3 linked regions of the Homo sapiens genome follow. The main gene of each other region encodes a partner of the protein of the gene in region 3 in a complex. Each region holds a gene or a part of one and is shown on either strand. Other genes may lie near its edges. The genes, in order: PRKAA1, PRKAA2 and PRKAB2. A codon is read from its position in the direction of its gene.

Region 1 (7,106 bases), on a different chromosome or scaffold from region 3:
GTGTGTGCAACAGAGGTGGGTGGGTGGGAGACATCTTTTTTTTAAAATTTGTTTTATTTTTTAAATTTTTCTTTAAGTTATTGGGGTACAGATGGTATTTGGTTGCATGAGTAAATTCTTTAGTGGTGATTTGTGAGATTTTGGTGCACCCATCACCTGAGCAGTATACATTGCATCATATTTGTAGTCTTTTATCCCTCACCCCTCTCCCACTCTTCCCCCTCAAGTCCCCATAGTCCACTGTATCATTCTTATGCCTTTGCGTCCTCATAGCTTAGCTCCCACATATCAGTGATTAGAACATACTGTGTTGGTTTTCCATTCCTGAGTTACTTCACTTAGAATAATAGTCTCCACTCTTATCCAAGTCACTGCAAATGCTGTTAATTCATTCCTTTTTATGGCTGTGTAGTATTCCATTTTGTGTGTGTGTGTGTGTGTGTGTGTGTATATATATGTATACACCACAGTTTCTTTATCCATACATTGAGTGATGGGCATTTGGATTGGTTCCACGATTTTGCAATTGTGAATTGTGCTGCTATAAACATGCATGTGCAAGTATCTTTTTCGAATAATGACTTCTTTTCAGAAGAGATTGCTGGATCAAATGGTAGTTCTACTTTTAGTTCTTTAAGGAATATCTACACTGTTTTCCATAGCAGCTGTGCTAGTTTACATTCCCACCAGCAGTGTAGAAGTGTTCCCTGTTCACCCTTTTCAACAAATTGTGCTGGGATAATTGGCCAGCCACATGTAGGAGAATGAAACTGGATTCTCATCTCTCAACCTTATATAAAAATCAACTCAAGATGGATTAAGGACTTAAACCTAAGACCTGAAACTATAAAAATTCTAGAAGATAACATTGGAAAAACCCTTCTAGACATTGGCTTAGGCAAGGATTTAATGACTAAGAACCCAAAAGCAAATGCAATAAAAACAAAGATAAATAGATGGGACCTAATTAAATTGAAGAGCTTTTGCACAGGAAAAGGAACAGCAGAGTAAACAGACAACCCACACAGTGGGAGAAAATCTTCCTAATCAATACATCTGAAAAAGTACTAATATCCAGAATCCACAATGAACTCAAACAAATAAGTAAGAAAAAACAAATAGTCCCATCAAAAAGTGGGCTAAGGATATGAATAGACAGTTCTCAAAAGAAGATATACAAATGGCCAGCAAACATGAAAAAATGCTCAGCATCCCTAATGATCAGGGAAATGCAAATCAGAACCACAATGTGATACCACCTCACTCCTGCAAGAATGGCCATCATCAAAAAATCAAAAAGCAGTAGATAGATTTTAGTGTGCATGTGGTGAACAGGGAACACTTTTTTTTTTTTTTGGAGACAGTTTTGCTCTTGTCACCCAGGCTGGAGTGCATTGGCGCAATCTCAGCTCATTGCAACCTCTGCCTCCCAGGTTCAAGTGATTCTTCTGCCTCAACTTCCCTAGTAGCTGGGATTACAGACGTGTGCCACCACGTCCTGCTAATTTTTGTATTTTTAGTAGAGATGGGGTTTCATCATGTTGGCCAGGCTGGTCTTGAACTCCTGACCTCAGGTGATCCCACCCGCCTCGGCCTCCCAAAGTGCTGGGATTACAGGCCTGAACCACCGTGCTGGGCTGGGAGACATCTTCTAAGTACTTGGATAGTGTGGGGGGACAGGGTAGACACCTACACATAAATGGATGTTGTTAGGAGAGAGAAAGGGGGACATGGATACTCAGTGAACACACAGAAATGGCCACTATTGTGGTGATGTTGGTAATTAAACACCAACAGCCTTAATTATGCAAGAATTCTTGCAAATAATAGGGTTAACCATATGTTTAGACAATTTGGAGTAAAGAAAGCTTTAAAAATTACTTATACATATTGGTAAATTTAACATGAAGAGGGATCTAATAAAATATATGATATTGATATGCAGAAAAAGTCTAAGTATGATATTCCATGCTTATAGGAAATTTAATTTTGCGGGGAGAGTAGGCTGGAAGTTCGGAGTGATTGTTTCCTGTTACAGGCCAAAAAATTTGTTTGGTTACTTAGTGGTAGCATTTTGAGAGGAAAGTTTACAGAAAACTAGGGTTATTTTGTGATTATGCTTGAATTGTCTTTATTGTTTCCAAGGCATCTTTTTTTTTTCCTTCTAGTTATCAAGATGTTAGGTTCTGTGCCCTTGTGGGCCTTCCCTCTGCCCAAAAAAAGCATGGATGAGCAGAGTAATATCATTAAAATGGCAGTCTTTGTTAGTTTTTCTAGAGAAGATGGTCTCTTTGGTAGGCTGGGTGTATCTTCGGCAAATGAGTTATTTATACATATAAACTATTAAGTTGGCAAGTATTTCTTTTTTTTCTTTTTCTTTTTTTTTTTTTGAGATGGAGTTCCACTCTTGTCGCCCAGGCTGGAGTGCAATGGTGCGATCTCAGCTCACTGCAACTTCCACCTCCCGGGTTCAAGCGATTCTCCAGCCTCAGCCTCCCAAGTGGCTGGGATTATAGGCGCCCACCACTACGCCCAGCTATTTTTTTTTTGTATTTTTAGTAGAGATGGGGTTTCACCACGTCGGCCAGGTTAGTCTCGAACTCCTGACCTCAGGTGATCCACCCACCTCAGCCTCCCACAGTGCTGGGATTACAGGCATGAGCCACCATGCTTGGCCTAAGTTCGTAAGTATTTCTGTGTAAAACTGCAATTTCAGCTACATAGGTACTTTGTGAATGAATCATAGTAGAAGTTATTTAAAAATTCCTTTAAGTAAAAATTATAAACATGAACTAGAGCTATATATATCAGTGTGAATGAATCTTAAAAATATAAGGTTAGACCTCGAAAGCAAGTTGTATAAGAATATGTATAGTTTGCTGTTATTTATATAAATTTTAGAAACCTACAGAACCACTCATACAATGCTGGTAGAGTATAAATTGGTATCCTACCTCTACATGAGAGAGTGACAGCATTTATTAAAATTAACCTAACAATTCAACTTCTAGGAATTATTTTATAGATGTACTCGTGTATGAAATAATGGGTTATTCGCTGCCATATTGTTGTAAATATTAATACAAAACTTTCGAAGTAACCTTTCTAATAGTAATAGTTATGGTTTATCCATATAGTGAAATACCTTGCAAACATTAAGGAAGAAAAAGGGAGGAACTTTGTATATTTTAGAGAACAATTTCCAAGGTGTATTTTTAAGAGGAAAAAGTAGAACAGTGTGTTCAATATGCCTACCACTTATGTATAAAAGGCAGGGGCAAATCTGTATCTTAAATGTGACTGCTTTTATATATAGAGTATGTCTCTTTAAAGATACACACAAGACTGGTTACGTTAGTTGCTCAGTATAGGGGACTAGGTAAAGGAGGACATTGTGTTGCACCATAGATGCTTTTGTACTTTTGAACTGTGTGTATAGTGCAGGTATTGTGTTATCAAAATATATGCAATGACATTTGTAAAAATAAATATGAAAAATAATGTTACTATATTTTTTATGGATTCCTACCCATGTAAAAATATTTAAACGTGGGAAACACAAACACCAAATTCAGGATAGTGGTTACTTCTGAGGACAGATGAAGGATAAGGGAATCTGGGAGGAGTCATGCAGGGCTTGAGTTGTATTTGTAATGTTTTATTGCTTAAGCTGATGGTGGCTCATGGGTATTTGGAATGCCCTTGGTGTGCTTGAAATGTTTGTTTGCTTTCTTAAATTACGATCTATAGCTTTTAAAGCCCACCCTTCCCCAGGATTAAGCTATTTCCTTAACACGTTTTTATTCTTTCAATTTTAAAGTGGGAATGAAATGGTTAGGTGTCTAGAATATCTTTAGTAGATATTTCTATCTTTGCTGCTTCTCTGTCCTATTAAAATCCTCTGTTTCAAAGTATGATCTTGTTTCCCTTCAGGATTATATATCTAATTAGAAGAGCATTTGTTACAATGTTATGCAGTTAGACAAAGTTCCCTTTAGATAGCAATAGCATGGTTGTTAGCTAATATTTAGTTGACTAATCTGCTATTCTTGTGAGGGGGACATTGTGAATGCTGGTAATATTTGCTCTGAGTAATGTGCAAGTCTTCCGTGGCCAAAATATCTGTCTTCCGTTTCATTTAAAAGCAAAACCTTAGCACTATTCTAAAAACTGACAGTCTGAAGAATAAAGTTTGAATTTTGAAAAAGGGGGGAATCCCTTAGTAGTGCATATGCCTGACAGAGTCCATTTACTACATTCATTGATTGACTATGGAACAGCATTTAGTTTGGCTACAACTGAGTTTACTCACTGGGGAGAATATTTAGCCTGGTTTTGAGAAAACAGTTTAGTTTCTGATACCATGCCAAGCCCTTTGTCCCTCTCACTGCACAGTGATGGTGGGGAGAGTGGATAGGTCAAAAGACTTGGGAGTCGGAAGACCTGTCCCAACTTGATCACAATAGCTTTACTTCCACAACTTACAGAATCTCTTAGAGCCTCAGTTTCTTTATCTGTAAAAGACAATACCTCCATCATAGGTTTATGCTCAAATGTGATAATGTGAGTGTCTCCTAAGCTATTAGATGCCATATTTTAAAAAGTATTATGCTACTGAAGGCCGGGTGTGGTGGCTCACGCCTGTAATCCCAGCACTTTTGGGAGGCTAAGGCGGGCAGATCACGAGCTCAAGATATTGAGACCATCCTGGCCAACATGGTGAAACCCCATCTCTACTAAAAATACAAAAATCAGCTGGGTGTGGTGGCATGCGCCTGTTGTCCCAGCTACTCGGGAGGCTGAGGCAGGAGAATTGCTTGAACCCCGGAGGCAGAGGTTGCAGTGAGCCGAGATTGTGCCACTGCACTCCAGCCTGGCGACAGAGCGAGGCTCCATCTCAACAACAACAACAACAACAAAAAAAAAAAAAAAGAAAGAGTTGACTCCTGATAGACTATGAAGGCTGGGATACAAATTCAAAAAGCGGAAAACCACACGAGCTGGAACACTATAGGCTGGGAGCAAAAAGCCCTATCCTGCTAAATAACTCCCACTGCTGTCACTGTGTGAGGGTATAAGGAGCAGTTGATACTCATAAGTTAACATTTGTTTGGTTCCCAGTCTTCATGTACATGTGTTCCATTTAAGAAGTCATGATCATGTGTAGTACAATTAGAAAACCTGTTTTCAAAAAATATTACTTCTGTTAACTTGTTAATTTTAATGGTGAATATCATAGTTTAGAAAATCCACCCTCCTTTTCTTGTCAGGGACTGAGTGTGTGGTCCTGCTCCTGTTATGTATGGAGGCAAAGGGAAAGGGCTCCGGCCCCCTCAAAATCATGTCTTTGGTGCCAGCCGGTTCTGTTCTCAGTCACCTGGATACTGAACTTTCCTGAGCAGGGCAGAACTGAGATCCAGTGGGCTTCTCCCCAGGATGCTTACGCTTTTTCATTTGATTTCAGGTCTCCTCTTTCGCTTCCTATTGCAACCAATGAAGGCCATTCCTACCATAAGTAAATAAAAAAGAAAATCTATCTTTAATAAATAACAATTGTATATATTTATGGGGCACAATGTGATGTTTTGATACATGTATACATTCTGCACTGATCAAATCAGGCCAAGTAGTATATCCATCTCCTCAAATATTTATCATTTCTTTGTGGTGAGAACATTTAAAGTTCCCTTTTTTAACTCTTTTGAAAAATTAATATATTTACTGTAATCATGATGCTATGCAATACAACACCAGGATCCTGTTCCTCCTGACTGTAATTTTATGTAGCCATTGACCAATATCTTCCTTTTCCCCTCCAGCCCCACTTACCCCAGCTACTGGTAATCACCATTCTACTCTCTACTTCTGTGAGTTTGACTTTTTTAGATTCCAAATATAAGTGAGTCTCAGACACCTCTGACATACTGATTTCAATTCCTTTGGATATATACTCAGTAATGGGATTGCTGGATCATATAGTAATTCTATTTTTAGTTTTGTGAGGAACCTCTACACTGTTTTACAAAATGGCTGTATTTATAGTTTCACCAGCAGTGTATAAGTGTTCCATTTCTCTGTGACCTTGCTAACACTTATCTTTCACCTTTTTGATAATAGCCAGTCTAACAGGTGTGAGGTGATACCTTATTGTGGCTTTAATTTGCATTTCTCTTATGATTAGAGATGTTCAGCATTCTTTCATCTATCTGTTGGCCATTTGTTTGTCTTTTTTTTTATTTTTATTTTTGAGACAGTGTCTCACTCTGTTGCCCAGGCTGGAGTGCAGTGGCATGATCATGGCTCACTGCAGCCTTGACCTCCTGGGCTCAAGCGATCCTCCCACCTCTGCCTCCCAAGTAGCTGGGACTACAGGCATACACCACCACGCCTGGCTAATTTATGTATGTTTTATAGAGACAAGGTCTCACTGTGTTGCTTAGACTGGTCTTGTATTCTTGGGCTCAAGTGATCCACCCGCGTCGGCCTCCCAAAGTGCTGAGATTACAGGCATGAGCCACCATGCCTGGCCGGATATTAGCTATATATCTGATGCATGATTTGTAAATACGTTTTCTCAGTCTTTGGGTTGTCTCTTCACTCTATTTGTTTTTGCTTGTTTGTTTGTTTTTTTGAGATGCAGTCTCCCTCTGTCACCCAGGCTGGAGTGCAATGGCGTGATCTTGGCTCACTGCAGCGTCCGCCTCCCGGGTTCAAGCGATTCTTTTGCCTCAGCCTCATGAGTAGCTGGGACTACAGGTGTGCACCACTACGCTCAGCTAATTTTGTATTTTTAGTAGAGATAGGGCTTCACCATGTTGGTCAGGCTGGTCTCGAACTCCTGACCTTGTGATCCGCCTGCCTCGGCCTGCCAAAGTGTTGGGATTACGCGTCTGGCCTGTTTGTTTGTTTTTTGCTGTTCAGAAGCTTTTTAGTTTGATGTCATCCCATTTGTTTATTATTGCTTTTGTTGCCTGTGCATTAGGGGATCATATACAAGAAATGATTGCCCAAACCTGTGTCATGGAGCTTCTCGCCTAAGTTTTCTTCTAGTAGATTTGTAATTTCAGGTCCTAAATTTAATCCATTTTAAGTTGATACTTGTTAAG
Region 2 (7,310 bases), about 91 Mb from region 3:
TGTAATTATTGAGCTTGTACTTCCTATAAAATACCATAAACATCCTTTATTATTCATTGAGTGTCCAAATTTTTTATTTTAAATTGGAGACAGCCATAGAAGCCCTATATCATGAATCTATAGACTTCAAAGGTGCTAACTCATGCCTCTCTAACCTCACTAATGACTGCTGTGCTGAGATGTAAAATTATGCTTTGCCTTTAATATGTGTATACATAAAATAAAACTGCACTCTTCCCTGTATTGTTGTTACTTGATTCTCTAGCTTAGTAACTAACCCTTTCTAAAATTCAATTTAGCAAATATTTTTGGAATGATATACCAGGTTCCACTAGGCCCCAGAAACAGCAAGTGGGGTATGAACATATCATTTGCATATATAATATGTAAATATAAATACATATATGTATCTATCTATATGTATGTATAATGTATATGATAATAGAATTGATAAATTCTATATTAGCTATATTAAACATGTACAATGGAAAACCTAAAAAGAAACATGTGATGAAAAACTTAATGAATCATGCTTAATGTCAGAATTATCTTTCTATTCTATTTAAAAATTTACAAAATATAAAGAGGTAATCAAAGAGTATACAGCCAGAAAATGTAGAAAACAGGTATTATAGAGGTATGTTAGATAATTAATTTATAAAAATATTGTTATTTGTCTGGATTTGGGGATGTTTGTGGCATTTGTCAGCTTTTATAAATTTGTAGAGAGTTGTTTTTCACTTCAAATTCTCACTTTCATACCCAATTTTGCATTTTTTTTTTCCCTTAAAGAGATTCCCCCACACTGAATAAACTTCAGGTGCCACATTCTGAATCTGCTTGGATATCTATATTTTGTCAGGCATTGTCCCGGGAGCTAAGGATACATCAGTGAACAAAATAGAGAAAAAAGGCCTCTCTTCTTTTGTGAAGTTTAGATTCTAATTGGGAGAAACAGACAAAAATATAATAAGCACATAAATTAAATAGTATGTTACATGGCTAGTGCTATGTAAAAAAGTTGAGGAGGGTCAGGGGATGAGAGTGCAGGGCAGAGAGCATGAGTGAGATAAAACTGCAATTTAGGCCTGGTGCGGTGGCTCACGCCCATAATCTCAGTACTTTGAGAGGCTGAGGCAGGACAATCACTTGAGTCCAGGAGTTTGAGACCAGCCTGGGTAACATGGCGAGACCCTGCTTCTAAAAAAAAAAAAAAAAAAAAAAAAAAATTTAAAAAAAATTACAAAAAAAAAAAAAAAAAAGAAACTGCAACTTAAATAGGGTGGCCAGGGTAGGGTTCACCAAGAAGGTGACTGTGAGCAAAGACTTGAAATAATTGGTTACTGATAATACCAATGGTGTCTAGTACAGTATATTAGTTTAGTGGTCTTGCATTAATGTCCTACTCAGGACTTATTTTAGAATATTTGAAGGTAAAACAACCCCAAAGTTTCAGAAGCAGGAGGGTAAAGCAGCAATAGTTGGACCAGCGCTAAGAACTGAACACCTCCCTGGGGCACTGGTCTTAGAGATTGGTACTAAACAATAGCGGCGTGAAACCTTCATTGGAAGATAATAAAATGGGAACATTGCATTTACCAGGTCATCTTTAGGGGTGAGACCTCCAAGAGGCATGACCCTTAAGGAGATCTACTCTGATTAACTGTCGAGTTTTCTACTGCTGAATAGGAAGAGGCAAATATGGAACCTTATCTTGAAGTGTCCAGGACAACAGAGGGCTGAGTACTGCCACCAAGAGTTGTCCTTCTTACCCACTTACCATTCAACCTTTCCTCTAAATAAAAGTCAGAAAAACAACAAAAAGTAGTTTAAATACTTACAAATTTATAGGATATATTATTGGACTGCCCAAGAAATAATAAAAATATGAAAATGGAACCACAACTGTGACAATTTTTAACTTTCTTAGAGCACCATACTTTCTTTTGGCATAGGCAGCTGCGGTATAGTAGGCAGACTGAAGGACAAGTCAGAACTGGATATGAGTTCTGACTCTGCCACTTTTTAGCCCTGGGCAAATCAGAAAGGGAAAAACTAAGTTTTATCATCTATAAAATGGGAATAATAATCTTTCTTTTATGACAATTAAATAATTGTGTTTAAATGAACTTCTTAATCAACAAAGTATCATAGATGTTTCACATAGTAACAAAACTATAAGGTAGTCCACAGTAGCTATGTAAGAATCATAGTTATGAAGTATATAATAATTTAACTTACAGTATTTATCAACAAATAGTTAAGACAGTACGAAATGCTTTGAAATCTCAATTTACAGTTAGTCTTTATGTAGCTTCAAGAAAGCAATCATCTAACTTCAAGTGAAGACTTTTCAACATCTTTTAACGGGATATTAGAGCAGAAGACATATACATCTCATACCTCAAAAGCAGAATAGGTCTTTTCTTACTCACTTGACTACTGAAGGAATGACCCTTAACCAGATGAAAGTTCAGCACAAAAATAACTGGCTATTTTCTCAAAATTGCCAGCGAGGTAGAGTGATTCCTAGATGATACTTGTCAGCAAGAAAGATGATCTGAAGAATGAACAAAAATAGCCTCTGTTTAACAGCTGTGATATCTATAATTTATAAGCTGTGATCATCTCTCATCAGATTGTCTTGATGTTTGGATGAGAATGAATGTTTGAAATTTCTATATTTAGTACTTATCAGAAAACAAAGTTTTGTTGTGTCCTATTCTTTTTGATCAATACATTTCAATTTACATATAAACAGTGTTCAAGAGACTTCATGTTTGAGGAATGTGACCTTGAAACTCTACTGGCATGCAGTGCTATAAATGTTTGACTAATCCTTAATTACTTATCCCCAAACAGAATTTTTTTTTACTGTTTTAAAATTTTTTATTTCATTGGCAAATAAAAATTGTATATATTTAGTATGTATATGTTTTGAAATATATTGATTGTGGAATGGCTATAAGTCAAGCTAATTAACAAACATATTGTATACGAATCTTTTTGTGTGTGTGGTGAGAAGCAAATAAACTTTAATCACTGAAAGACAGAACAACATTAAAGAATGAGACAACATTAAAGGAAGGAAGGAAGGAGGGAAGGAAGGGCGGGAGAGAAGGAAGAGAGGCAGAGATAATCGCTTTATTACCTAATTCTTTGCCAGTCTTTTTTCTTTTTTTTTGTGGGGGAGGGTGGGGAGGTCAGTCTTTGAACACGCTGCCTAGGCATCATGCTTCTAATTTCCTCTTACCACTCTTTTCACTTCTATATCACATTTATTCTTCCTTTAATATGTGACCTTATACTGGCCTCGCCCTTCACAATTCCTCTGTCGCTTACGTATTTTACTTTCTGTGGGCAGAACATTGTTTCCCTTTCCACGTCTTTCCCATTTCCTTCTTGTACAGCTGTATCACATTTCGGTACTATATGTTTATATAAGCGCGTGGTAAAACTACATATTTATATAAGCATGTGCTAAAAAACACTCGAGCAAATACCGTGACTGAGATTTTTTGGAAAACTGTGGGCAAATTAGTTAAAATTGAGAGCTCTGGCGGAGAGGGTCTCTTCCATCTATAGGACAAAATAATTGGGAATTACAGAATAAGTAGAGGAGGACAATTCAAGAGAGCACAGAGCTGCGTGCATTCTCCCTGTGCCGCGACCTGTATCCAAAAGCCTCAGACGAGACTTGAGGAGCTTCCTAGAGGCTCTCCTGCCACTGCCCCTTTGGCCAGGGCCCTTCCCGCAGTCTCCCCTCCCGATTCTTCCCTTTTACAGCCCCTCGCTCCCGACATGCGAGGCCCGTCTCTTCTTCCAGTTTGACTTCCAAGTCTTTCCATTCCCTAGGATCGGGCCCCAGTCTCACCCCCTATTTTCACCCCCTTCGGTTTTCCTCAGAAAGGGCCTCCTGCCTCCCTCGGCACCCTCGCCTACCCCCCTCGCAGCACCTGTCGCCTCCGCCCCTCACTCGGACCCCGCGCATCTGGCGCAGCCCCTCCCGCACTCCCGCCCAGCGCCCCGCGTCCCCGGCCCCCGCTGTCGCTGCTTCGGGTTCCGCCGCAGGAGCCTCTCACTCCCGGGAGCGGGCGCCTCGCGCTCCCTCCCTCGGCCCCGCCCCGCCCGCCGCTCGCCCGTTGCTTCCCACCTGGGCCCGAAGCGCCCAGCGCCCTCTCCCGGGACCCCGCGCCCGCCCCGCGCCCCTCGCGGCTCGGGGTCCGCCCCCTCGCCCGCAGGGCCCGCTGCACTGTGGGTAGGCGGCGGCGGCGGCGGCTACGCGGAGCGGCAGGCGGTGGAGCGAGGCCGCGCGCGCCGAAGATGGCTGAGAAGCAGAAGCACGACGGGCGGGTGAAGATCGGACACTACGTGCTGGGCGACACGCTGGGCGTCGGCACCTTCGGCAAAGTGAAGAGTTGAGTACGCGCTCCGGACCGCTGTGCGGGGCTGCCTGACTTGCGGGAGGCCGAGGGGAGAGGCGGGAGCCCCGGGCCTCCGGCGGGCGCGGGGCTCGGCGGCAGGTGGAGCGGTCCCGGGTCGCGCGGAGCTGGGGCCCCGGGAGGGTGGCGCGCACCGCCTCGCCTGGCACCGGCGCCCGGGCCCCACAGGGTCCAGGGAAGAGGGCGGGGGTGTGAGCTGAGGATGGGCGTCCTGGGTTCCAGGTTCCGCGCCCATCTGCCTTTCTGGAGGTCGGAGCAAGGCACTTCTGTGTTCTCTGGACCTCAGTGTCCTCCTCTGCAAAATCGGGAGAACTGGACTCGTTCTGCGAGGCGCCTTCCAGCTCTGAGCCTGTAGGCTTAGGGCGGGGATCATCCACGCTACTGAGGACTGAGGCGCCGTTTCGTGCCGGGTGCCCTGTTAGGTGCTTTACATGGAATCTCATTGAATCCTCACAGTGACTTGGTCAACATGTTGTCCTCACCCTAAAGGTGAGAAAACTAGGACCCCTAGAGATGTAGTAACAAGCCCAAGGTCACACAGAAATGGTCAGTACCAGAGTGAAGTCTAAGATGTCCTCCAATTCTGGTCTTGCTGGGAGGTCCCTGCCATCCCCAGATTCCTTCACGTTCCAGGACTCTCGGTTGTTGGGGGTGACTGTTTGGGGGATGCTCCAGGGGCCAGAGGTTGTGAGTCTTTCTTCCTGGGGTGTTGTTTAACGCTGGAATGCAGCTGGATTGGGTCAGAGGTTAATTAAAACAGAGAGGTCTGAAGGTGTTTGTGTTTGTAAAATGGCTATGGGAAGACTTCTAGGGTAAGGGAGAGAAAAAGTTTCCTTGGTGTTTGGAGGATTTGAGGCTGAGGAGGTCAGGACTGCTAAGGCATATTCTGCTAAGGTCTGTCTTCATGGAGATAGGATCCCCTTTTGAATGTAGAAAAACAGGCTGCTTTTGAAATGTTATACTTTATTCGAGTTAAGTAACTAGTAAGAATAGTTAAGTATGGAACTTTCATTTGTTTTCTTTTTTGTTAATTAGTCACATGTGATTTAATTAACCTGCCTTCTCTCCAGAATAGAGACAGTTGTTTATTAAAAATACTTTGTTGCAAATCCAGAATTATAAGTGAAATATTGACCTTTATTTTTTCTCTTTGCTGAAGAAATGCTGGGTAGGCAGTCTGGAAATTTTATTCTGAGGTCTCTATTTCCTTGTAAAATTCATATTTTAACCCCAAGTCAAGGCTGTTGAATGAGTAGAAGAGACTCATTTTTCATTCCTTTGGTAAGAATCAGCTCCTGTTTTCTTGCACATATTTAATACTCATTCATGTGTTCAAAAAACGCTGAGCACCTGCAACGTGGTAGGCACTGTTCTAGGCAATGAGGATACAGCAAGGAAAAAACAGATCTTTTTGTTTAGCTTTCTAGTAGGAGAAGGCAGACAGTAATCAGAATATATATGTAAAAGGTATGTTTAATTTTATTGAGAAAAACGAATCAGGGAAGGGAAGATAGAGAGTCTTGTGAGGTTGGCAGTTTTCAATAAGGTGGTCAGACAAGGTGGTATTTTTGCAAAGACCTAAAAAGTTTGTAAAATTCTTTGCTGTCCTGTGAGGGTTATAAAGTCCTGGGTTATTTTTGAAAGACCTTATAAGTAGAGTGGATAGTTAGAATGTATTTAAGATGAATACAGGACAATCCAGGGATTGGATTAATGCCTGTAATGTTACTTGTCATTTAGTATTATTATTAAGGACTATTGTGTTACAACATTATACAGTTGCTCAAGCAAACAGCGCCTTTGACATTTGGACATGTACACACAAAGTTATATAACTTAACCCTATGTCCTTTCATATTGTGTTAAAAGTTTTTGCTTGTCTTTTTAAGTTCATATACTGTAATCTGAATGTAGAGTAGAATACTCATCAGATCAATCAGTCCATTGCCAAAGACAACTTAAATCTCTTGTATGTACTTTTGAATTGTTTCCAGGCACTGGCTTCTTAAAATATAAACAGAAAGAACTTTGATTTATGAGAAATTCTTTTCCTGGAGAACCTCTGTCCAATGAACAACCAGTTGAAGGAGTTTTCCTAACACTGTGTTAGATCCTCTCAAAAGTGATACCATGGTTTCCTATCCAAGATTAGGATTAGTACAATTGTTACTCATATAATTCTTCAAGGGACAAGCGAAACAAAAAGTCATGTTTTTTTTTTTTGTTAGAAAACAGCTTTATGGTTGGGCACTGTGGCTCACACCTGTAATCCCAGCACTTTGGGAGGCTGAGGCGGGCGGTTCAATTGAGGTCAGGAGTTTGAGACCAGCCTGGCCAACATGGCGAAACCCCATGTCTACTAAAAATACAAAAATTAGCCAGGCGTGGTGGTAGGCGCCTGTAATCCCAGCTACTGAGGAGTCTGAGGCAGGAGAATCACTTGGACCCGAGAGGCAGAGGTTGCAGTGAGCCAAGATTGCATCACTGCACTCCAGCTTGGGCGGCAGAGCAAGACTCCATCTCAAAAAAAAAAAAAGAAAAGAAAAGAAAACAACTTATTTAGGTATATTTTATATATGAAATTCATCCATTCTAAGTGTACAATTCAGTGATTTTTACTAATTTTGCCAAATGTTGCAACCATCATTATAGATAGGTTTTAGGACATTTGAGGACACCACAGTAAGATTCTTTATACCCATTCACAGTTAATCTCATTTCTACCCTCAGTCCCAGGAAATCACTAATCTGTTTTCTGCCTGTATAAATTTGCTTTTTCTAGGCTCTTCTTCATAAACGTGATCGTTCAATATGTCATCTTTTGTGTCGAGCTTCTTTAACAATGCTTTTGAGATTCATGCATGACAT
Region 3 (7,435 bases):
CAGGATTTAATGATCACATGCCTACTCCTCTCATTTTACAGATGAGAAAATTTATGGCTAAAAAGATAAAAGTACTTGCCCTACATCAAATAATTTTAGAGTTGGCAGCCTATTTGTACCAAATTAATACTCACATGGTGATGATATATACATAGTAGATTCATAGTTAATGAAGATGTTGAGATACTAATTATTCCAGTAATGTATATCTATAATTTTAGAGGAAATTTGCAGTGAATATTTAGTCACAGTATCACTATACACCATATCTATTTAGAGTTGTAGTAGTTTCCTTAGAGATTTCCAGAGCATGTGCTCCTCTAGAGCAGGGGTGGCTCAGCAAAAGCTCAACAAGTATTGGGGCCCTCAATCAAGGTTTGTTGAAATAAATGGACTATACTTATCAAGAAATACTGGCTAAATATTTAACCTGCACCTCATTTATAAAATGGAATATCATGGATCATCTGTTCTGCTTACCCTCATAGGGTGGTTCTGAGGATCACATGATAGAATTTACATGCAAATCCTTTGGAATCTGAAAGGAAAAATTATGATACTATTTGGGGAAAATTCTGTACCTTTGAATTGGGTCTATCTTCCTTTAGGTGAGCAGAATCACTATTATTTCTCTGCCTGTATAAAAACTATAAAAAGATTAAAATCAATGGTATTTGTTTAAAAATAATTAGTTTACCCAATGGTTGAGTAGTCTCTTGTGTATAAACTCATATATTTTGCTAATGCTGATTTTATTAATAGTTTTTAATTTAGGCATAATTTTCATACAATAAAAATTTACTTTTTATTGTACAGTTTGGTAAGTATCAATAACTCCACTGCAGTCAAGATACAGACCTGTTCCATACCTCCCCTTCAAAATTTCTTCATGCCCTTTTGTAGTCAATCACTCCCCACCCCCCACCCCCAAGTCCTGGCAAACACTGATCTGTTTTCTGACCGTATAGTCTTCCTTTTTCCAGAATGTCACATAAGTGGAGCCTGGCTTCTTTTACTTCCCATAATGCATTTGAGATTCATCAATATTATTGTATGTATCGAGTTATTCTTTTATTACTGAGTAGTATTCCATTTATAGCTATGCTACATTTTAATTATTGATTCACCAGATGTATTAGCCTATTTTCACACTGCTATAAAGACATACCTGAGACTAGGTAATTTATAAAGAAAAGAGGTTTAATTTACTTATAGTTCTGCATGGCTGGGGAGGACTTCAGAAACTTACAGTTATGGTAGAAGGGAAGCAAGCTCATCTTATGTGGCACAGGGGAGAGACAGTGAGTGTGTGTGAATGAAGGAAGAACTGCCAAACACTTTTAAAACCATCATCTCTGGTGAGAATTCATGCACCATCACAAGAACAGCATGGGGGAAACCGCCCCCATCATCCAATCACTTCCCTCCCTTGACACGTGAAGGTTATAGGTCCTTCCTTCAACACGTGGGTATTACAATTTGAGATGAGATTTGGGTGGGGACACAGAACCAAACCATATCACCAGGTGAAGGACATTATGTTTTTTCCATTTTAGGGTTTGTGTTTTTTCTATTATATGAATAAAGACATATATGTGTTTACAGGTTTTGTGTGAACTTGTTTTTATGTCACTCGGATAAATACCCAGGAGTGGGAATTAGTATGCTGCATGATTAAGTAAATGTTTAACTTTATAAAAAAGATCAGATTGTTTTTTGAAACAGTAACCATCAAGATCAGATGTTATACCTATCCTTGGTCATAAATGGAGGATGAAACTTGGTGAGTGGAGATGGGAATATAAACCTCCAGATGCCCAATTTAACCTGTCATCCAGTTCTGTAAAATCAATCCTTCATTCTCACATCCTCACTTCTCAGAGGAAGCGAGGTCTCTTTAGCAGTGTGTGTAAAGGCTTGCATGTGAGGCTGCCCATGTTATTTTTCTGTTTATTAGGCAGAATGATTGATCTGAGGAGACCAGTGGCAATGACATCCTAGACACAGTAACATCAGGACAACCCATTACTTTTCCTATTACCTCCTTCTTTTCCTTTCCTCTAGAAAGAAAGAAGAGCATTGGGGTGACAGCAATAAATCTAAAGGGAACAATTATACTGATACTGGTTAAGAGGATCTTGTATCTTTACTTATTCCCGAATCTAAGAAAAAAAAAAGGAATTTGGGACTAAGGAGAATTCATTCTTCCTACAGTGTCACATTACATTTGTTCTGTGTCTAAAACCTGCAATATTCAAAACTGACTTTTATTATTAACTGTTGAGTGACTTACAAATGTTGTTAGAGCAGAGCAGGGCAGAACAGTGTCATGGATAATCTTCCAAAGCAGATAATTCAAAAGTCATTTCCATTTAGCTGTGCAAAAACAGTTTATTTCTCTCCGTCAGTTTTCCATTGGTTAACGTACTTTGTTTCTGCTAGGCTGATTTGACTACTGCAAGGAAATACATACCAAGGACATATTATTTGGCATGGTGAAACCACCTTGGGGTCAGAAAACTGAATACTACACAAGTCAAGGTTTAATGTATTATGTATCTTCAAGGGCCTTGCTTCAGTGTCCTATGGTAAGGAATTGAGGGGTGGAGGGAGAAAAGTAGGGATAACCAAAAAGCATGTACTCAGACATAAAGATTTTGGAGGGGTGAGCAAGAAGTTGCAGTAAAATCGTACCTTTTTTTTTTCTTCCTGTAAACTGTCTTTGGTTTATGAGCCAAAGAATGAGTTTATAAGAGGCAGAGCAAAGAATAGGGGAGTAGTGAATTTGTTGTACTTAAGTGGGATGTCAACTTCATAATATAAAAATGAACGTTTCAGCAAATAGAGCTGCTCACTCAGAAAGGGTGGCCTATGTAACTTGGGGTTCCCCATCATTGGCCGTGTTTAAGCCTAAGTGGCATATCTGGTTAGAAATGGATTACAGTAAACAGTATTCCTGTATCCTTCATTCCGCAAATGCAAAAGCCTACTCTGTATAAGGTACATGCAGAATATGAAAAGGTATCAAATCTGGATCTGCTCTCTGCCAGCTGTCAAAGCATTGCTTCTCACACACTTTAATGTGATCTTGTTAAAATGCAGATTCAGAACCCTGGGGATGGGGCCTGATTCTGCATTTCTAACAGGCTCCCAGTTGACGCCAACACTGCTGGTCTGTGTAACACAGAGTGATAAACGTTTCTAGAAGGAGACATGCAAATACTTATAATACAAAGGTAAGTACCTTAGGGATTCCACTAATTTTCATAAAAAACCTGGATCCCTCCCAACCCTAGGGCTGTCTTTGCCCTTTTTATACCTTTAGTGTTCCTTCTGATGTTTTCGTTGTTGCTATCTTCCTTGAATTTTATTTCTTCTGAGGTTTCTCACTGTGTATGCTGTTTCTTAGCCTAGGAGAGCCTTTTCGTTCTTCTCCTAAGACTAACATTTTACTAATTTGTCAAGGAGCTAGAGCTCCTAAACACGCCATCTTGAATTCTTCCCTGCGACCCCAGTCGGGCTGAAAGCTCCTTCCTTGTCGCTCCCCACTGAACAGATTTTTCTTGGGGCGGGGAGAGGGGGACGGAGTATCGCTGAGTCGCCAGGCTGGAGTGCAATGGCGCGATCTCGGCTCACCGCAACCTCCGCCTCCCGGGTTCAAGCGATTCTTCTGCCTCATCCTCCCAAGTAGCTGGGACTTCCGGCGCGCGCCACCACGCCCAGCTAATTTTTGTATTTTTAGTAGAGCCGGGGTTTCACCTTGTTGGCCAGGATGGTCTTGATCTCCTGACTTCGTGATCTGCTCGCCTCAGCCTCCCAAAGTGCTGGGAATACAGGCGTGAGCCACTGCGCCCGGTCAGAACAGTTTTAACCTCCAGCAATGACCACTGCTTCCTTCTGCCTGCAGTTGGAAGTCAGTTTCAGTTTTCTTATTCCCTATAAGGAACCCACCTCTCCGGTCGCCTAACACACAGATGCTGCCCAGAAAACGTGCTGGCGCACCTGAGGCGGGGTAGAAAGCCGTGCCGCTCCTCCCGGCACCGAGCACCGGAGCCCAGGGAGGCGGCCTCCGAGTGTCATTTGGGGACGTCCCTTCTGCCGGGTAGTCTCAGAGGCCAAGCGCTCCTATTATCCCGGGCGCAGTCTCCCCAGGCGGGACAGGCCCTGCCTGGCGCCCCCTCCTGGCGCTGGAGGCTGCGTGCGACTGCCCACCATCGAGGCGGCGGCGGCGGCGGCTAGAGAGGCCGGCGGGTCCCGGGCGCCGAGGCTGCAGGCCGCAGGGAACGCGCACTGGGCGGACTCCGCGCCGCCGGCCTTGTAGCCATTTTAGGAGGAATCGCTGGTCGCCAGCGAGGGGTGCGGCTTCAATTTCAATAACTTTATTGGTGGCCTGATCTGCAGAACAGCCATCACATCAGTGGCCCTTGGAGGAGGGAGCGCATCGCCCGAGGTGACTGGAGTGGGGGCGCCCCTGGCAGTGAGCGCGGGGACGCGGGGGAGGTCCCGATAGCGGGTTTCCTGAGCTAGGGCCAGTGAGGGCACCGGGGTATTTGCAGGCGTTCCCGCAGGCCAGGAGGGAGAGGGCTCCAGGGCTCGGCTTCCCTGGGGCGGGGAATCCCTTGCCCTGTCCCGAGGCGCAGGGGCGGGGCCGGGGGGCGCCCCTGACGCGGCGGCTGAGGTGTTCCCAGCCCGGTGTCGTTCCCCGCGGTAGGTGGTCCCCGACGAGCTGCAGCCATGGGAAACACCACCAGCGACCGGGTGTCCGGGGAGCGCCACGGCGCCAAGGCTGCACGCTCCGAGGGCGCAGGCGGCCATGCCCCGGGGAAGGAGCACAAGATCATGGTGGGGAGTACGGACGACCCCAGCGTGTTCAGCCTCCCTGACTCCAAGGTAAGCGTCCCATGCCCGCAGTTGGTGTCAGTACTGCAGCGGGTTGATTTCTGGGCTCCTCTTCCCTTTCTTGGTTCTTTTCTACCGCGCCGAACCGGGCTATGGTTTTTTGAATTAAAGGGATTTATCGGGGACAGAGGTGTTGGATGATAATTCCTCTTGAAGTGCCGCCTCAAAATAGGATAAAGAGGCGGAGTTCTTGCTTTCCTGGTGTTCTGACTAATCTGTTGGCCACATTTTTAGGATGGGGACAATAGACATCCCCCCATCCCCGATCCTCCGAGCACGAATGGCTCTCTTCCATAGCGTTGCTGAATTTGTAGTTTGTAATCCCTGGTGGACAACTTCAGAGGGTAGGTTGCACGAGTTGCTGACCATAGGTGGTAGTTTCTCACCTTTGCCCTGAGGTGGCTAAATGAAATTCTTTTTCTGAAAATTTCTATGTATCAGTATCATTTTTGCTCTTCTAGCAGCTCTACAGTTGTGATCCTCTTCCCTTTTGGCACGGCTGTAAGCAGCAACTACTTGCTTATTGAATACTTTCTCCTAGTCTTGGGGATCAATTAAGGACATCATTTAGTTGACTGCTTAATTTTTGTCCCATACTTTATAGTTGTGGTGGCTGAGGCTGTGCCTCTTTCACGCCCCGCTGCTGCTCCGTAGGTGGAAGAGCCAATGATTCCACGACTTGTTTACTCCTCAGTAGTACTTCAAAATGTTGCGTGGCTAAAAAAACGACAACCCACAGCTGCCCTGAAGACCTTGCTCTCAATTCCAAGGACTTTCAGGAAGAGAACAACTTGTTTTCACTCTGTAAGAAAGGACAGATGGAGCTGATAGCAGCGATTACCATTCTAATGTTTCTAATGGCTTTCAGAGCTGTCAGCATGAAATACAAGTAATTCCTCCAGGTAGACTGACTGGATGAGATAGAAAAATGGAGGGCTTGAGGAGATTCGGGTGTGTTTGATGTTTCCTATCATTTCATCACTTCCCAGGGAACTGGGGCTTTAGAGAGTGAATAGAGTATTGTTTGCCATATTGGTAGCACATGGAATTTGGATTCCATGATTTATTTCTTTGGATCTCAATTGATAACATCATCACAGCCTGGCGCAGAGGCTCACGCCTGTAATCCCAGCACTTTGGGAGGCCGAGGCGGTTGGATCATTTGAGGTCAGGTGTTCGAGACCAGCCTGACCAACATGGTGAAACCCCGTCTCTACTAAAAATACAGAAAAAGTAGCCGGGCATGCTGGTGCATGCCTGTAGTCCCAGCTACTCGGGAGGCTGAGGCAGGAGAATCGCTTGAACCCGGGAGGCGGTGGTTGCAGTGAGTTTAGATCAAACCACTGCACTCCAGCCTGGGTGACAGACTCTCAAAACAAAAAAACAAAAAAACAAAAAAACCAACCATAATCACAGAGAAGTGAGAGTGATTAAAAGGAGCACTTATTGGGGTTTATTCTCCAATTCTCCATTCTTATTTGGGCTATCTACAAGCCATCTGAATTTACTTCTTCAAAGCTTTCGAAAGGTGATCCGCCTCATTATATTTTTACCCTTTTCCTATGTTGATGACTCAGGATTTAAATACAGTGTATTTGTCGAACTGTGACTGCAGTAATTGGTGTCCTGATTAAAAGCCAGGTTGCTCTGTCTGAATTGGGGCCTATTTTGTATTATTCTTATCTCTCACCTCAGTCTTGGCATTTGTGAATTAAGAAAATTATTCATATAATTTTCAGATTGTCTGAAAATCAGATAATTCCTAAGGTCTCATTTAAGTCTAAAATTTTATAGTTCTCAATGTAGCCTCTTTACTTCTAAACTCAACATTTTACTTAAACATCAAACTGTAGTTCTGATTGTCGTTTTGCCTCTTTTCCTGGTAGTTTTGCTGAGTAACTTGGAGTAAACAATCTTTCTGCTAGTCAGTTGCATTCATTCCTACTACAGAAATGTCATGTCATAAGTGGAAGGGCTTTCCTCCAAAGCTAGGCATATTAATAGTTTGTAGCTTTCAAATTCTAAACTGAAAATCCTGTCATAAAAGTAACTGACAGAAACAGTGGCAGGGGGGCCTACTTTGCTTTGAATGCCTGCCTTTTTCAGTGGACTAGTTCAGTGGTTCTCAATCCTGTTTGCACATTAGAATCACCTCAGATTTCTTTAAATAGTTTTTGGAAAATTTGAAACACTTTCAAAGTAGGGGGAAACAGTATAATGACATCTATATACATGCCACCCAGTTTGAACAATGATCATATCTTGAATGAACATATAACATCTATACCCCAGTCCACTATTCTCCCACTAGTTATTTTGAAGCAAATTCCCAGATATTATATCAAGTATTATTTTATCTGTAACATTTTAGGATGTACCTCTAAAGATGAGGGTTTTTTCTTTGTTATTTTAACATAATCACGGTATATCTGGGAAGCTTTTTTTCCTTTATTTTAACATAATCACAGTGTTATCTAGAAAGCTTTTTAAAAATAGGTTCCCAGATCTTACATCCGAATCTGAGGGTTATTCTTAG

What was found.
Region 1: the proteins of PRKAB2 (region 3) and PRKAA1 are in contact, whole or in part, in a crystal structure (PDB 4RER), measured with the Homo sapiens proteins. Residues at the interface, in NP_005390.1 of Homo sapiens: Val80, Arg82, Ser84, Ser108, His109, Asp111, Ile115, Ser138, Asp159, Phe160, Glu161, Val162, Ala165, Leu166, Ser182, Ser184, Gly190, Gln191, Glu192, Met193, Tyr194, Ala195, Phe196, Glu199, Arg201, Lys203, Ser204, Pro205, Pro206, Ile207; in NP_006242.5 of Homo sapiens: Gly20, Val22, Lys40, Lys42, Asn59, Arg60, Gln61, Lys62, Val69, Arg73, Val93, Ile94, Ser95, Thr96, Pro97, Ser98, Asp99, Ile100, Met145, Met175, Ser176, Asp177, Gly178, Glu179, Phe180, Arg199, Leu200, Ala202, Pro204, Glu205.
Region 2: the proteins of PRKAB2 (region 3) and PRKAA2 are in contact, whole or in part, in a crystal structure (PDB 6B2E), measured with the Homo sapiens proteins. Residues at the interface, in NP_005390.1 of Homo sapiens: Val60, Ser61, Gln64, Glu67, Asp68, Ser69, Thr73, Gln74, Ala76, Pro78, Thr79, Val80, Ile81, Arg82, Ile106, Ser108, Val113, Ile115, Val155, Ser158, Asp159, Phe160, Glu161, Phe163, Asp164, Lys167, Leu168, Gln191, Met193, Tyr194; in NP_006243.2 of Homo sapiens: Gly9 (codon at 4,348), Arg10 (codon at 4,351), Val11 (codon at 4,354), Lys12 (codon at 4,357), Ile13 (codon at 4,360), Thr21 (codon at 4,384), Asn48, Arg49, Val58, Gln66, Gln81, Val82, Ile83, Ser84, Thr85, Pro86, Thr87, Asp88, Phe89, Met134, Met164, Ser165, Asp166, Gly167, Glu168, Phe169, Leu189, Ala191, Glu194, Pro253.

The regions. Positions count from the first base shown.
Region 1 is NC_000005.10:40,788,352-40,795,457, reverse strand, and holds part of PRKAA1 (5'-AMP-activated protein kinase catalytic subunit alpha-1), read left to right. Parts: intron 1-5,253; exon of another isoform or gene 5,254-5,387; intron 5,388-5,424; exon of another isoform or gene 5,425-5,506; intron 5,507-7,106. UniProt on the Homo sapiens protein: Catalytic subunit of AMP-activated protein kinase (AMPK), an energy sensor protein kinase that plays a key role in regulating cellular energy metabolism.
Region 2 is NC_000001.11:56,641,065-56,648,374, forward strand, and holds the start of PRKAA2 (5'-AMP-activated protein kinase catalytic subunit alpha-2), read left to right. Parts: upstream 1-4,249; 5' UTR 4,250-4,323; coding exon 4,324-4,417; intron 4,418-4,688; exon of another isoform or gene 4,689-4,931; intron 4,932-7,310. UniProt on the Homo sapiens protein: Catalytic subunit of AMP-activated protein kinase (AMPK), an energy sensor protein kinase that plays a key role in regulating cellular energy metabolism.
Region 3 is NC_000001.11:147,169,444-147,176,878, reverse strand, and holds the start of PRKAB2 (5'-AMP-activated protein kinase subunit beta-2), read left to right. Parts: upstream 1-4,408; 5' UTR 4,409-4,450; exon of another isoform or gene 4,451-4,711; 5' UTR 4,712-4,734; coding exon 4,735-4,890; intron 4,891-7,435. UniProt on the Homo sapiens protein: Non-catalytic subunit of AMP-activated protein kinase (AMPK), an energy sensor protein kinase that plays a key role in regulating cellular energy metabolism.